Regions from separate parts of the Homo sapiens genome. Here region 1 is linked to region 2. Evidence: fine-mapped expression QTL. A gene starts in region 2. The other region holds a variant in brackets. All regions are shown on one strand. Distances are between the middles of the regions.

Region 1 (5,369 bases), 63 kb before region 2:
GCAACCTCTCCAGGAGATTCCTGTGCACAGTAAAGCCTGAGAACCTGGGCAGCTGACAGTTAATGACATAACTGACCTTCGAATTGGAAGGGAATACCCCTGCTTCAGACTCGAGAAAAAAACTTAAAAAGCAGCCTTTGTTTCCTGAAAAACACACCAGTGGGCTTGCCTCACAGAATACCAACAGCCACTGTGGCCAGGCACATGCCTGAGAGCTGGGGAAAACAGTTGGCTCCGGGGACACCACCTCCTTTTCCAAGTCCCCAAGGCGAGGATAACATATCCTTGTCTCACACCGTTTCTGTGTCACTAGGTGGGGACAATGGTGGGATGAGACACTTAGCCCAGTCCCATGCAAAATGACAGAGGGACACATAAGTACTCTACCTTTTGAAAGTCAGATGTCCTGGGACGATAATGTGCCCAGCTCAGATACAGGGGGCCGAGGGGAGAAAGTCCCCACCCACCACCTGCAGGACAAAGGCCAACCTGCTGGGAGGCTGGATGCACAGCATGCAATGACTCCTCCAGCCCAGGCGGCTCAAACACACAGCCATTCCCTCACGATGCAGATGCAGCTGAAAGCATCTGAAAGCGTCTTCTTTCTGGGACATGGGCCTTAACGATGGACAATTAAAGAGCTTTTCTTGCCCCCTTTCTTTCCTATAAGAGGCAAAGCCACCAGGAAAATCAACTTGATAAACATGGCCTAGAGCTGGCTGTCCCACACAGCTGGGACGAAAAGAGACAGAGCACTAGAGACTGTCCTCGAAAAATCGGATCGATCTATATGGTGGCAAACCACTGCAGGGCTCAGACAAGGCCTGAGGGAGAAACAGAACATTGCACCAACTTAGAAATGAAGCCTCATTTCAGGCAGAAGAGCCGCTGTCTTTCCTGCTGACCGTATTTTTGGAACCAGGGCTGGGCACAGGGAGGCTGACATGAGGGCCTGAAGGTGACCACAGAAAGGAGAAAGAGGCCTTCTTGCTCAGAATTTTAGGCAATGGTGATTTCAGGGGTGAAAAGAGGGTACTATCACAACTAAACGGAGGGTCCTTCAGAGGGATGTGGGGACACAGGGGCCAGATGTGACTGTGCCTGTCACGAAGTGGGGAAAAGAGGGCTCCTGAGGGCCCAGGAACCGCCAGCAAACCAGCCTACCACACCCACCAGAGGCGTCCAAAAGGCCTGATCTCACCCACAGAGGGGGGCAGGAGAGGATCGCTGTGAGTCCAGGTGAAGGAGTCAGCCCTCCCCAACCCTCACAGGCAAACTTTTACTGCTGCCGCAGGCTTCCTGAGCTAGGATCCCCGATTTTGCGACCTGTCTCCTCAGCACTAGGGGCACCAGCACCAGGCAGGAAAGCAAAGAAAAACTCGCAGAGTCCAAGGGGATGGGCAGGGAGGGCTCCAGGAAGCGTCACATGGGCACCAGAAGGCAAGATGACAAGGGGGTCTTAAGAATCCCCAATTCAGCTTACTCGATTCACCAAGTTTCGCTCTAAGGATGTGCTGCCTTTTAAACAGAGTTTGTCGAAGTCTTTTTACAAGTCGCCATGCTAGCTTTCAGTGAATGTTAATAACACTGGTACGTGTTCATGATGCAGCAATTCAGATGAACTACATAAAAGCCCTAGCAGCCAAGTCAGGGGCTGTTCACCCTGAATTCAGGCCAAGAACTAGAAAGAGCCAGCCTTTGGCATGCTGAATTTACCAACCTAAATACGAAGTGGCACAGCAGCCTCCCAGAGCCAGCACAGCACCAGCTAGCCCCCAATGGGGCTGGTACCCGGGACGGCCACCAGAGCTGGCTTTCAGAGGCCCAGGCACTCTCTACAGAGAATATGTGCTGTCGGTACCGGGCACCCAACCCTCCAGATTCACTCAACCATTGCCCATCCTTCTCCTCTGGAGACAAGGAGAGGCTTCTTGTCTTCCTTGGAGGCTCCTGCCCTGGGCTTACTTCTCCCTGCCATTGGCTCTGGGGCCAGCGGGGCACAGAGTGGATGGCCTGGTCAGGACGAGGGAGTGGAGAGCAAGTGGAGGGGCAGCAGTAGACCCGTCTGTCCGCACGGGGCCTGGTGGTGAAAGCACAGGCCTGTGGAGACCTTTCTGCGCATAGGAAATGAGCGGGAAAGGAATCCTCAGGGCAGGGCAGAGAAGAGGCTCGCAGAGAGCTGTTCTAACTCAGGAAATGCCTCCTAAAGGGAAGAGGGAAGAGACAGAAACAGCATGGGTGAAGAGGCCTCGAAACCTCCTGTGTGAGTCAGGATTAGGATGAAAGGAGACGGGGTGGAAGGTGGGAGGGCATCTGGGGATCCGAACGGAGGGGCTGTTGCTCTCCCAGGGAAGGAGGGCCTGGTGCCCAGCAGGCTGAGGGAGGGGCTGGGAGGAGACTTGCAACAGCTCTGCCTGCAGCCAGG[A/C]TGGGGGCCCGGACAGGGAGCAAGAAGGGGAAGCTGGCCCAGGTCAGCCCCAGGAATGGGTGACAGGTCAGCTGTGTCGACAAGGCCCTGGGGCATGTTCCAGCCTTCTCTCTGTGGCCTTGAAAGGCGCATGGAGAAAGCACACGGGCAAGCGAGCGTGCTTGCTTGCAAGCAGGATGGCCTCCGGGGACCCCGGTCTTCCTGCCTACGTGGCACGCTCTTAAATGTGCATCCGTCCCATCTTCTCATGGGAGTTTCAGTTTTGTTTCTTGTGACCTCTATCTCCACTGCACTGTTCGGCACCACCCCAAACACACCCCCAGGCTGGTTCCACAGAGCAGGGTCTTGCTTTCCATCCCTGCCGCCTCCCCGCTGTGCACCCGCCATGGCCAGCCACGGAGTGACACACCTAAGCCATGTTACAGCCATGTTACCTCCCAGCTGCCCACGAGGCTGGTGAGAGGATTTCTCCCACTTCATGGGTTAGGAAATGAAGGCATGGAGAAATCAGGCCATTAGGAGAGGAGGGACCAGGTTCACTCTGGCCTTTCCTGACTCCAAAGCCAGCACTCCGATCTCAGCTCCATGTCGGCAGCGGTTCCAATCCTGACTGCATACAGGGGTCCCTGAAAAGCTTCCAGATACCCCAGGATGGCAAGGGCCCTGTCTATATCCCTATACCTAGCACTGCGGCTGGCACATATTAAAAGTGAAATCAAAGCTTGTTGAATGACTGCATGTGTGAGTCCATGACTGAACACACTTCCCTGCCACGGACACTATCATTCCTCCCTCATCCTGACCCAAAGCCTGAAGTCACCTTACCACAGGAGCCACCCAGCTGGCCCCAGACTAGTCTCTCCCTTCCTCCAGCCCTTCTGCACGTGGATAGACAAGGAACCTTCTCGGAACATCCCTTTCAACCCGTTACCTTATGTTGTTCAAGGTTTCCAGGGCTTGCTCTGGGTTTGAGGATACAGTTGCAATTCCTTGATCTGATATTTAAGACCCCCAGTGACCTGGTTCCAACCAGGCTTTCACTCACATCTCCCACCACTCACAAACTGTTCTGGCCAGGCGGGTGTCCTTCTTGTCTCCTGTAAATTCCCACTAGTGTGACTGCGGACTGTGGATGGCACATCCCTCTCTCTCCACCACCTGTCTGGATCCTACCCATCCGGGAGGACGGAACTCTTCTGCTCTGCACCCCAGGTCCCAGGGAGCCCTTCCAACGCTGAACACCTGTGCCACGGATCTTACCTGGCTCCGTTCTAATGTGACTTCTAATTGACATCGCAATGTGCACATGTCCTAATTTCGTAAGTACATTAAGATCACTTGAAGGCAGGAACTGTAGACATATAATTTTATCTCCCCACAGTGACTAAGGTGGCACATTCTCTGTGAGTGCCACTGGGCATTCAGCAGCTCCTGTCTCCTTGTGGACGGTCTTACCTGTAATATCTGGACTGCAAGTAGGTGGAGCACACAGCCTTGGAGACGTGGCTGGCTGAACCAAAGTCGATGACCTTGACTCTGTATGGTTGTCTAGATGGATCCACCAGCATGATGTTTTCTGGTTTGAGGTCAGCGTGGATAAGACCTAGGCTTTTGAGTTTCATCAGGGCTGTGGCTACCTGCTGGAGAACTGGGCGAATGTATTTGAGGGGCAAGGGGCTAAACTTGTTTTGCTTCAGAAAGTCATAGAGGTTCTGCTCCAACATCTCGAAGACCAAGCACGTGTGGTTCTTGTGCTGGAAGCATTCGTAGGCCCGGACGAAGTTATAGTCATCGGCACTCTCCGTGCTCAACCGGGCCAGGATGCTCACTTCAATCTGACCTTGTCGGGCATAGGATGGGTGGTTCTTCAGGATCTTGATGGCTACGATCTCATTGGTGCCCCGTTTCCAGCACTTGACCACTTGCCCAAACGTCCCTCGGCCCAAGAACTCTAAGACCTCGTAGGTGTTGGTCATGGAGCACAGCACCTCATGCTGCACCAGCTGATAGTCGCCCTCGCTGTTGGAGCCGCTGTTTTTGGAGGTGGCAGTAGACGTGGTGGCAGTGGCGACAGTGGCCCCGCTTGCATTATTCTGAATCATGGGTGGATGCTCCTCGATGATCTGCACGCTGCTTGTGTTCTCGATCTCCTCGCTCTTACGCTTGAGTCCACATTTTTGGTAGGTATCAAGGAGGCTCACAGTGCTTCGACGCATTAGGTTGTGTGGTCCGCCGAGGACTTGCCCGGTGACAGAAGTGCTGCTTGCTGAGGTGACCACGATGTGCCCGGTGCTTCCTGGGAAGACGATGGTCTGCTCGTAAGGTAGGCTTGGGTTTGGGACCGGCAAGGAGGTGCTGACGGTTGTGGTGGCTGGCTGCGACAGGGGGATGTTCTTGCTCTGGCTATACACTTTGCTGTGGGAGCCGTACCCAGTCATGTCCCAGTTGGAACTCGGCTCTATTTTCAGTTTCTTCACACTACAGAAGGCACTTGATTGAAGGGTGTGAGGGGAGAAAACTTGCACATGTGAGGCCATACCTACAAGGAAAGGAAAACGAAAAGTAAGTATCGGAGTCACCTTGGTACAAGTAAACTCAACAGATCCCCTTCAGTTCTCATCTGTGGCTTGGGCCATACAGAATATATTCCTCCCACTTGAAAACAAGGTTGAAAAAGTGAATCTCTTCCACCCAGAAGCACATTCTGGTCACTGAGTTTGTGGAACCAAGTGGTTCCAGGGTGCCACTTGCCACCATTAGGTGCCAGCAACACAGCTGAGACTCAGAAACAGAATTCCAATATCAGGACATAGGTCACCATTTTTTTTTGTAAACATTACTTGTGACAGAAATGGATTCTTCCTCAGTTCTCCCTGGGTTGCTTTCTACTGAAACTCAGGAGGCTCTGCTGTCACGTACTTCGTTGCCCACATCATCAGCTCAG
Region 2 (5,369 bases):
GAGGATGTCACCACGGCAGGAGAAAGGAGGTCATCAGAGTCTTGGCACACTCATCACAGTGAGTGAATGCGGGTCCTAGCAACCTAATCCTTGATTCTAGAAGTCACCTGTCTGTTTTAGAGCATGTCCAACAATCTCTTTCAAAAACACCCAGATCTGGGCTTTTGGCAGACTGATGTGGGCCAGTTGAGGTGGGATGGGGAGGAAGATTAGAAAAATAATTATAAAGGTGCACAGATAAACATCCGGAATAAAAGGGTGCACAGCGCAGGAACAATGAAGAGGGCACACGGACAAGATGGAGGGAAACTGAGGGCTGAAAGAGGCCACCGCGGAGGTCACCTGAGACAGGGAAGGAAGGCTGGCAAATAAAAACAGTTCATGAGACTTTTGAGATCCATGATTATTCTTAAACCGTAACACCCTACACACCTGCAGTTCTTTATCTGGCGTAAGGAACTGGAAGAACAATGTAGCAGGAACGGGGAGAGCCAAGTCTCAGCCTCGGGGGCATGGCCTACCTTCCATATGGATTTAAAATGAAAGGAGCAGGAGGAGAACAGTGCAGTTCCCAAGATGGCTTTCCACAAAGTTGACAAAATACACCCCAACTCACATACCCGGTCCCTAGTAACAGGGAAACCAGCCGTTTACTATAGTTCTGAATTCAATGCCAAGTTCCTTCTCTCAACTCACCGGGAGTGTCCAGCAGAGGGAGTCTCAAGGAGGTACTTAATAAAGAGAAAATTGTTTCATTTTAACACTCTAGACAGTGGGAGCATTGACTGTAGCCCCCTCCTGTAGACGCAGATGAACAATGAACGCCCGACATGGGTTCTCCCGCATGTTCACATGTCCACCGGCATGTTCTATTCTGCGTGGTGGAGTGATCAGAAATTTCGTTTTGTTTTGTCGAATGGTTAAATGGACCTTGTGTTCTTCAGAATCAAAGAGGAAAGCCCCTGGAATAACATCTCTCTGTTGCCTTCTAAACAGCCCCTTTGTTTCTAAGAGAGTCTGAAAAAAAAATATTTACAGTCTATAGGTTATTTACAGCCTCGTTATCCAGGGCCTGACTGGTAACTTTATTCCGGCCAGAAACCTAATTCATTTGGAGCCCTGAAACTAATAACAGATTTTCTTTTAAGTTTTTTTTTTTTTAATCAGCCTCTTATAACAGAGATAAAACTATTAATGCCTTCCCTGTCTCACTGGCCACAACTGTTCTCCGGATTTACAGGAGGATTACATTCCCCCCTCGTGCCCTCCTCTGTGCCACACAAACCCTGTCCCCTCTCATTTGCGATTTCATCCACAGAATATCTGAACAAAACCGAAAGAAAGCCGGGGGACCCACGCTAAAAGTATGTGAAGGCTGCGATTTCAATGATTTCATGAGACAAACATTTACACGATGAAACGACTGAAAAATCAGACACACTTGGGTTTAAAATTTCTCCTACTACAAGCACACAAAAACACATCGAAGTGTAAAAACTTAGTTGATTCTGGGTTGCTTTCTGGCTGGAAGCTGACAGAACGGACTGAAGAGAAACGAAAGACAGTGTGCGAGGCAGACCTACTGCTTTTCTGCCTTGCGTTCTTTTCTTTCTTGCTAAAGGCAGTCAAATGGGGAAAAATACCCCGATGCCAGGTGAAGGTGCACAACACAGATCGACCCAGACCGAGCCAGAAAAACGTCTCCGCCGCTCCCCCGGCTGGAAAACCCAAAGTCCACGTCCCCTTCCACACGCTAATGAGGGGAGATTTTCGCCTATTTCATTGTTCTGCCTGGCTCTGACATGGACTTTTCATCTCTCTCCTCTCTCCCCACCTAGCCCCGTGCATTCCGATTCCACAGCCCCCCCAAAATCGGAGGCTCGCGGAGAATAAAGGAGCGTGGGGTGGGCGCGGAAAGAAATGGGAAGGGGCGCGGGGCGGAGAGCGAAGTGGAAAGGAGGTGCTCCGAAAGGTAATGTGGGGGGGCGGTGGAAGCTAAGCCGCATCACCTTCATTTATCGCAAATAAATAAAAAGCACAGTCACCGGTCCGCCTTCCCCGGCGTCCCTGCCCTCCCCGGGCAGCCGCCCACCCTCGCACACGCCCCCTCCCCTCCTGCGCCCCCGGCCCCTCTCCCCGCCCTGGAAGCAAGACCCTGCCGGCGCCGGGTCCCGGTCATCTTCCGGGCGAGGGAGGGGGTCGCGGCCCCCTCGGGCCCCGGGTGGGGGCTGGGGCAGGCGCCGGGGGCTGCGGGCGCGGGGCCGCGGGCAGAACAAAGCTGCGGGGGCCGCGGAGGGCGGCGGGCGCGGGGTCGGCGGGGCCGGGCGCCCCTTACCTTCGTACACGGGGGCCATCGGGGCCGGGGTGTCCGCGGTTCATGGCAACGGGGACGGGAAAGCGGCGCGCGAGCTCGGCCCCCCCAGCCTCAGTCGGAATCTGCCATCTTGAGCCTGTGTCTCCGCTCTCGGCGCAGCCGAGGCCGCCCGCGCCCGCATCACCGCCTCCCGTGGCCGGCGCCGGGGGAGGGGGCCGGGCGCGCCGCCGCCGCCGCCGCCGCCGCTGCCGCCCGGGCCCGGCGCGGGGGGCTCGGGGCTCGGGGCTCGGGGCGGCCGGGCGGGCGGAGCGGCCGAGGCCGAGGCGCCGAGCGGCCGCGGCCCCCGAGCGGATCCGCGGAGGGGCGGGAGCCGGGGGCAGCGCGCGGCCAGGGCCGGCGGGGCTCAGCTCAGCATGGCTGGGCGCGGGGGCTCCGCAAAAGTTGCTGGCGGAGGGGGGCGGCGGGCGGGGGCGGGGGCGGGGCGCGGGGCCGGGAGAGCCACAGGGAGTCCGCGCGCAATCGAGCGCCGATGGCACGGATGCGAGGCGGGGAAGGCCGAACCGAAGGGCAGAGCCGCGCCGGCGGCCCGAGGGGACCGCGCTGGGAGGGGCTGCCGCGCAGCGCGGGGGGACTGGGCGCAGGGCGGGCCCCGGGTAGTGGGTGAGAGGGCCGGCCTGGACCCGGCGGGCGCACGGCTCCGAGCCCAGCGCAGCCGAGCCGGTCTGCAGAGGGGCCCCCAGAACTTTGTGTGTGTGTGTGCACGCGCGCGCGTGTGTGCCCAGGTGCGAGGGTTCGCGCGTGTGCTGGCGGGGAGGGAACCGACCCGAAAGAGAGCCCCACGCTGGCAAAGTGGCTCGCCCATCTCACAGCCGGTTGGCGCTCGCGGAGGTAGGAGTGGAATGAATGAATGAAGGAGTGGGCGCGCGCCGTGCTCCGGAGGAGGGCGGGTGAGTGGAGGAGCTTCGGAAAGCCACACGAGGTCAGAGGCACCGAAGCCCTGCCGTGCACGCCGCGGAAATGCAGCCCCCGGGGTGGTCGCTGGGTTCCTGCCGGAGTCTGGCTTCCACGCCACCCTGATCTTCTCCTCCTCGCGTCTACACTGTCCCGAGGGCCGCCACTCCATCACTTGAATGGGAGCTCACAACTCTCTGGGTCCTCGCTTTTCTCAGCGCTCTCTCCTATCAGGGCTTCCGCTAAACACTCTCCAGACTCTCCCCAGCCGGGAGCCTCTCCAGGTTTGCTTCTCCAGCTGCCTCCCGGATGCTTGGATAGGATGCCCTGCCATCCCCTCCAACTTAGGAAGACTTGTTGAGTCTCCTCTTAGGCACTGTTTTTAAAACTGTGGGTCGTGACACAGTAATAGATCATAAAATAAATGCAGCGGAAGGCAACCAGCTTTCAAAAAGAACGAAATGGAATCCAATAGAAAATATTAGAGTCCATTGCCCTTAGTAAGGGCAACTATTGTTTCATAAACCTTTTGTTTCGATTATAGGTACTGGACAAGTGTACTGGACCATGATGTCAATTTTATTTCCGTCTGTGAATCGTGGGTTTAAAAAAGTTGAAAAGCTATCTGTGTAAAATAATGATCTCTAACACTGTATAACTTTCTTAAAAACAACCTCGTGATTTTCTCACTACTTCTTATCCTTTCCGGTCTCCATCCTCCGTTCCCATCCTTCAGTCCTTCCCAAAAAAGGCAAGCTCTTTCACACTTTTTTAGTGGTACATCACGACACCTTCCTCTGTGTGATCTTGTACTCTGCGGTCTTCCTTGCCCCCATAATCAATGCTACACTTCCTATCCCTTCTCTTAACCTAATGCCATTCACGTTTGCAGAATCCTAGACTACTGTTGCTAAAAGGACCTCAGAGGTCATCTGGGCCAGCCCTGCCCTTTTAGAGTTGAAGAAATGGAGTCCAGAGAAGTAAAATCTGTTGCCCAATGTCACACAGTATTGAAGCTTAGGAATAGGTCTCGTGGCTCCCACTCTAGTGTTTTTTGCTCCACACCGGTCATTTATCTCCTTCCCTTCTATCCTCCCTGCAATCTTTAACTTTAGTCTTGGCCCAGGTCATCCTAAATATTGCCATCTTCATAATACGTGGTTCTGGCCATGCCACGCTCCTGGCTAACATCCTCTAAGGACTCAACCTCTGCAGGTGGGGCTGAGTGCCTTGGCTTTTCATCAAGGCAGGCGAGTCCTGACTTAGCTTTCTAAGGACATGAGTTCAGCAAGTCACTGCTTCTCTAGCCAAACTGGTTTACTTGTAGCCCAGTGCCAGCTTCACCCATCTCTGTCACTGTGCCTTTGCCCAAGCGGTCACTTTCCCACCCACTTTCCCAGAGGGGTACCTTCTCCATCTTCTCTCTTTAAGCAGATTCTACCTGTGCCTGGCTCACCTCCTCCACAAAACAGCCCGAGATAGCGTGGGAGTAAGTCAGACCTAGGTTCAAATCCTAGCTCTTCCACTTAACTATGTGATCTTGGTCAAAATGCTTAACCTCTCTGAGCCTCAGTGTCTGTATTTTGATTATGAGAAGGAGAACAATAGTAATGTTCTCCTTTTGCATCTGTAAATCTCTATCATAGCCTTCACCACACAGGTATGTAACTCCCTGTTAATACATACCCTACATGCATGTCTCTCTGCCCCTTTCTAGTGCTGGCCATTAGAACTTGCTGCCATAATGGCAGTGTAGCTACTTATGTCTGTGGAGCACATGAAATGTGGCTAGTATGACTGAGGAACTGAATTTTTAATTTTAATAACCATGGGTGGTTAGTGGCTACCATTTTGGACAAGGTGTCTCTAGACTGTAAGCTCAGTAAGGACAGAAACCATGTTTTTCTTGTTTTGGATTGTATGTCCAATAACTGCATTGCCTAACGCATGGTGAGTACTGCACACATATTTGTTGAATGGATGATAGCTGCAATTTGTTGCATGCTCCCTTGTGTCCAGCACAACACTACAAACTCGATAAAAGGCATTTCATATAGTCCTCATCACAGCCTCTGAGGCTGGGTTAGATTAGAGAGAGAGTTTT

What was found. PIP is the estimated chance that this variant, and not a neighbour inherited with it, causes the effect. A credible set is the group of variants that fine-mapping cannot tell apart.
Region 1: its variant is the best candidate, but not a certain one, in a credible set for the expression of HIPK2 in whole blood (TOPMed, PIP 0.64).

The regions. Positions count from the first base shown.
Region 1 is chr7:139,712,052-139,717,420 of GRCh38, forward strand. It overlaps HIPK2 (homeodomain interacting protein kinase 2), which reads right to left. Exons shown (of 15, transcript NM_022740.5): 2 at 3,881-4,964. Among named protein-coding and RNA genes, the nearest start is that of HIPK2, 63 kb to the right of the region's middle. RefSeq lists enhancers at 1-650, 2,361-2,850, 4,064-4,564, 4,565-5,065. The variant A/C (reference allele first, on the strand shown) is at 2,426.
Region 2 is chr7:139,775,270-139,780,638 of GRCh38, forward strand. HIPK2 (homeodomain interacting protein kinase 2) reads right to left here and starts at 2,729. Exons shown (of 15, transcript NM_022740.5): 1 at 2,336-2,729. The coding sequence starts at 2,354. It also overlaps a transcript of TBXAS1 not described here. RefSeq lists silencers at 2,325-2,414, 2,845-3,074.